2 separate regions of the Homo sapiens genome follow, and region 1 is linked to region 2. Evidence: fine-mapped expression QTL. Tissue or cell type: whole blood. Region 2 holds a variant in brackets; the other region holds the start of a gene. All regions are shown on one strand. Distances are between the middles of the regions. Region 1 holds the start of ZC3H7A (zinc finger CCCH-type containing 7A). Region 2 overlaps TXNDC11 (thioredoxin domain containing 11).

Region 1 (2,912 bases), 69 kb before region 2:
CCAGAAACCAGCCCTGCCGGCACCCAGACCTTAGATTTGCAGCCTCTAAAACTGTGAGAAAATAAATTCCTGTTGTCTAAGCTGCCTGGTCTGGGGTATTTTGTCATGGCAGCCTGAGCTAATACTCTGGTTTGTAAATCTACGTCACCCAGACCCCTGGAAGAGCTACTGTAGCTAGAGTCCCCACTTCCCCTCTTGTCTCTCCTACAGCCCAATCTCTGCATAGTAGCAGGAGAGAACTTTCTAAAATATAAATGAGACCTCGGAACTCCCAATTCAGACTCAATGAATGACCCCCTTCCACACAAAACTCCAAATTAAACATGGCGGCCCCCCTGTGTCACAGATCTTTCTCCCCTCTGGCACACATCAGCTATGCAGGCCTTTCCTGTTATCCAGACACCGAACTCCAGCTTCAGGGCTTTTGCACTCATTTCCCCTCTGCCTGCGGCACACTTCCCCGAACACGGTTGCATGGCTGTCACCTCCTCAGAGGCTTTCCCAAAAGCTCCTGTCACATCCTCCTGCTTGAATTTCTTTGGTCTTCACCGACCAAAATGGTCTTCTTTGGGCTCTTGTGGGTCCTGATCTCCGCCCTCCATCCCATGGGGCAGGGACCCTGCCTCGCCCACTGCTGAGCTGAGCATTTTACAAGAAGCCGTGCCCGCAGCGGGGCACCTGGCCGTAAAATGCAGATGGACGAGGCGGCATTTGGGCTGGGCCCTGAAGGACAGGGATCCAGGCCTTCCAAGAGCCGGCAGATGGAACTGGAGGGAGGCTGTCTTTGGATCCCCGGCTGCCGTGGGGCTCCGCGCCTCCGTTCCTCATATGTAGGAATGAAGACAATCACGGTTGTTCTGAGGATGCAGGGTTACTCTTCGCAGAGCAGGGCGCCCCGGTTGAGGGCTCGTCAAGCTAAGCAGGCTCCAGGGTGGGCTTCCCGATGCCGACTCTAGCTCCTCTCCCCGCTGGACGCTGTTCTACCTCCTAGCGCTTCTGCTCAGGCCGCGGCCCAGGCGAGGCCCCAGAAAACCCCGGTGCTGGTTAATCAGTCTTGAGTCCGAGCGCGTCCAGTGCGCAACGTGGCCTTCCCATTGGCTCACCCAGTGGGCCGCGCGTCGACGCCGGGGCTCCGGATTGAACGGCGCGCCCAGGTCCCTGCCCCCAGTCAGACGTGGCGCCACCGCCCCCAGCCCGTAGCTCCGGCGCAGCCAATGGCGGCGTCTCCCGGGCGGCAAGCGCGGCCTCCCGCCGCTAGAGGGCGCCGCCGCGGGCGCAACCGAGCCGCTGCCGCCGCCGCTAACCGAGGGAGAGCTGCGAGCGAGCACCCAGGCCCCGCCGCCGCCGCCGCCACCGCTGCCCGCCTGCCGCCGCCCGCCTCCGCCTGCCTTCTGCCGCCGGCCGGCGCGTCGTCCCCACAGGTAGGGGTAGGGGGACGCCGCCGGGCATGAAGGAAACGCGCGCGCCCGCGCCCCCGCCCCCCCCGCGCGCGCCGCCGCCTCGTGCTCGCGCGCGGCCGTTAACGGACGGCGGGCGGGGCGGGGGAGGGGCGGCGGGGTCCGGGGCCCGCGGACCCGAGAGGACCCTGAGAGGAGCCGGGCCGGGGCCTGTGCGCGCGGAGGGACGGGTGGGCGCGCCGTCCCCTTCCCCCACCGAGAATAACGTGACCCACTTCTGCCTGCCATTCCCTCGGCAAAATGTCTCCTTTTTGGTGATTTCACTAAAAAAAAATTTTTTTTTTGGTTATTTCTGTCTGCTCTGGTGATCGCGGGGATCCCGATTCAGCGTCTTGGGCTTGGGGGCGGGAAGGATGCCGGCGGAGAGCTTGGCGCATTAATTTGGGGCTCATCCGTCTTTTTTACCCCCCTTTCTGATTTTTTTATTTTTTCGCGCGGGGTGCAGCCCTGGGCCGGGCGGGGAGAGGCCTTGGGGTCCGCGGAGGCGGGGGCGCCGCCCGGGAGGACCGGGACCGGGACCTGTCAGTTCCCATTAGCGGGGCTTCCGGTCAGGCCTGGGCAGCAAAGGGGTGGGGCCGCCTGAGGCCCGGCCGGGGCCTCCGAGGTCGAGCCTGAGTCGGGACTGGGTGGATTTGCCAGGAGTTGGGTATTTTCCTGTCCCCACCTGTCTAGGGATGAAAAGGAGTTGCCCGTGTTCGGTATTGAACCACGAAGGACCTTGCCATGCCCAGTACGGTGGCCACTGACCCCCCGCCGTTTGGGACGATGGAGCCCACGAAATGGGGCCAGTTTCAGTTGCGGTCCCAGCTGTGAAACGTACATCTGATTTTAAAAACTTCGGATGAGAAAGAAAGTAAAAGATGTCATTGGTAATCTTTTATACTTAAATGCATGTTGAGATGGTCATGTTTGGGACAAATTGGATTAACGAAAATAGATCATTAAAATTAATCTTGGCAGGATGCAGTGGCTCATGCCTGTCATCCCAAAACTTTGGGAGGCTGAGGCAGGAGGATCGTTTGAGTGCAGGAGTTCAAGACCAGCCTCAGCAACATAGTGAGACCCCTGTCTCTACAAAAAATACAAAAAATTAACTGGGCGTGGTGGCGCACGCCGGTAGTCAGCTACTCGGGAAGCTGAGGTGGGAGAATCTGCTACTCGGAAGGCTGGGGTGGGAGAATCCCTTGAGCCCAGGAGATTGAGGCTTCGGTGAGCTGAGATTGTGCCTTTGTGCTCCAGCCTGGGACACTGTCTCAAAACAAACAAATAAAAAAACAAAAGTTAATCTCACTGCTTTTCTTTTTCTCTTTTTTTAGTGTGGCTATTTGGAAATTTAAAATGACATATACGGGCCGGGCGGGGTGGCTCAACGTCTGTAATCCCAGCACTTTGGGAGGCCGAGGTGTGTGGATCACCTGAGGTCAGGAATTCCGAGACCAGCCTGGCCAACATGGA
Region 2 (2,912 bases):
ATCCAGACCTTCCTGACAGTTTAGAATTGTGGCTAGTTGAATTTTACTGTTCGCACTATTTATATTCTGTATAGATTGGATACACATTTTTTCACCAGAACATCAGTATAGCTTTATTCAGTCATGTTGGAAACTACATATGTGTTAACTATTAGCAGAGATTCCCCAAGCAGCAGTATATCTAGTTATTCTGCTTTTAGTTCTTAGCTATGCATCAGAGTAAATATTCCTTAATTACATAGATAGCAGATGGATGTCTGTGCACCTCAGAGGCCTGCCTCTCATTTTCCCTGGGCAGGCTGGTGGGTGAGGGCTATATTAAGAGGCAGGGTACTGGGGCCTGATCCCTTTGGCACACTCACTGGGTTTGTGATTTGGGGCGGGTTACTCACTTCCTGGGCATCAGGGGCCTGGGCCAGGGTATCCTTGAGATTCCTTCTAACAGTAAAGTTGTGGTAAGTGGGTTTTGACATGGTTCTTCAGTGGGTTACAGCCAGAGCCACTCGGGATGGCACAGCAAAATGGTGAAGAATCAGGAGTCAGACAGACCTGCTTTTAGCAGTACTCCATTGATTGATTGATTGATTGATTGATTGATTTAGAGATGGTCTCACTCTGTTACCCAGGCTGGAGTGCAGTGGCATGATCTTGGCTCGCTGCAATCTCCATCTCTCAGGTTCAAGTGATTCTTCTGCCTCAGCCTCCTAAGTAGCTGGGATTACAGGCATGCACCATCATACCTGGCTAATTTTTTGTATTTTCAGTAGAGATGGGGTTTCACCATGTTGGCCAGGCTGGATTATTTTATTTTTTTGAGATAGGGTTTCACTCTGTCACCCAGGCTGGAGTGTGGTGGCATGAACTCGGCTCAAGCGATCGTTCTGCCTCAGCCTCCCAAAGTGCTGGGATTACAGGTGTGAGCCATCATGCCCAGCCCAGCAGTACTTTAAAAGACTATCCTCCAAGTATTGGTGTGGAGTTCATGTTAGACTCACTAATCTACTGACGACATTACTGCTGATGACATTTAAAACATTACATTAAGTTTTTTGGCAGCCCACTTAGAGTGATGTACAACAGTGATTAAACTGGACTGCCTTTAAAATGGGAACCACAAGAGTGCTACCAAGATGGGGTCCCTAGATCACTTCTGTCAGCCTTTAAAATGACTTCCTCCCAAAAGCTGTGGCTTTTATCGGGTTAGTATCATCTTTTGCTGGGCTTGTCACTGAGATGAGATTGTCTCATTGGCAAGAGATAGATAGTACTTTATTAATTGTGAAACAACTCACTAGTCAAGCCCATCGTGACACTTGTGAAACCATTTGTCTTGCAAAATATACCAAATAGCACAGCCTAGAAAATGTATCAGTTTCACACACACTGCCTATAAGATAGAGACAGAATTCTAGATCCAGAAATGAAACCACTGTCATGGTTTTGATGGTTGAATAAT[T/A]AGGAAAGTTAAGGAATTTTTGGAGTCCCTGGAGTAGAACACAGTAAGCTTTTGAATATTCTGCTAAGTTAGGGTTTCTCAACCTTGGCGCAGTTGACGTTGGAGGTCAGATAATTCTGTGTTTTGGGGGGCTGTCCTGTGGTTTGTAGGATATTTAGCAATATCCCTGGCCTCCACCCACTAGATGTTGGTAGCACCCTTTTCTCCCCTCATTTGTGACAACCAAAAATATCTGCAGACCTTGCCAAATACCCCTCAGGGGGCAAAATTCCCCCATTAAGAACTACTGCTCTGAAGAATTGAGTTTTCCCAATTAAGGCCTTAAGAGGAAGAAAACATGTCTTTTATCATGGGGCTCTCAAAGGCATTCATTTAATAGTTAAAAGTTTATCTGCTTATAATGGTGGCAGTAGAGAGAAGATGAAAATTAAACAGTGCCTTGACTAGAGAATGGTGGAAGGTTATGGTGGGGTGGGGGGGGCGGGTGGAAATTATAGCTAGGGGTGAGTTAGAGTGTCATCAGTAGAGCTGTCTCTGATACTCAACTTTTTACTCAAACTACTCACTTTTTCCAAAAAACACAAACAAAAAAACCCTATACAGTTTAAATATGTGAAGGAACTTGCTAATTTAAAGACATCTTACTATGAAAGATACTTGTTTTGGTCAAGAGCCTTATCTCAGTTTATATTTTTTATCAATATGGATTTCAGTATCAAGTGTGTTTAAATTTAAGTATATCAAAATTGGGTCAAAATAATTAATGTTTTCATGGCACTTCTGAAGTTTGACATAATGAAGGATTGGTTTTTTTTTGCTTGACTTAGTGTCTGTTAGATATGTTTGTAACATCTTGTAGGAGTATGTGTGATAATTTCCTCCTTGTTTTAAAAAAAAATTTCTTGCGTAGGATCTGGATTTTAAGGAAGGAAAAAAAAAGAAAAAAAATTGATTAATTATAAATTTGTCTCTAATCTAGATATTTGTGAGCATTTTGGACCATTATAAAATTATATAGTTAGCATTCATTACTTGGGAAGTGATGATGTCCTGAAATACATAATATTCTCTATTGACATAAACTTGTTTTTGAGACAGAGTCTCGCTCTGTCTCCCAGGCTGGAGTGCAGTGGCGCAATCTCGTCTCACCGCAACCTCCACCTCCTGGGTTCAGGTGATTCTCGTGCCTCAGCCTCCTCAGTAGCTGGGATTACAGGCATGTGCCTCCACGCCTGGCTGTTTTTGTATTTTTAGTAGAGATGGGGTTTCACCATTTGGCCAGGCTGGTCTTGAACTCCTAGCCTCAAGTGATCAGCCCACCTTAGCCTCCCAAAATGCTAGGATTACAGGTGTGAGCCACTGTGCCCCGCTGACGTAAAATTTTATTATATGTATATGGAACTCTATTCATGTATGCTTATTCTATTGTTAGAAAAAGAAATGTACTAATTGTATC

The links.
Region 1: ZC3H7A starts here. The variant in region 2 is fine-mapped to the expression of ZC3H7A in whole blood (TOPMed, PIP above 0.99).

The regions. Positions count from the first base shown.
Region 1 is chr16:11,795,633-11,798,544 of GRCh38, reverse strand. ZC3H7A (zinc finger CCCH-type containing 7A) reads left to right here and starts at 1,287. Exons shown (of 23, transcript NM_014153.4): 1 at 1,287-1,421. RefSeq lists silencers at 1,004-1,413, 1,896-2,055 and an enhancer at 1,051-1,588.
Region 2 is chr16:11,726,688-11,729,599 of GRCh38, reverse strand. All of the region lies in intron 4 of TXNDC11 (thioredoxin domain containing 11), which reads left to right. Among named protein-coding and RNA genes, the nearest start is that of TXNDC11, 15 kb to the left of the region's middle. RefSeq lists an enhancer at 1,012-1,071. The variant T/A (reference allele first, on the strand shown) is at 1,457.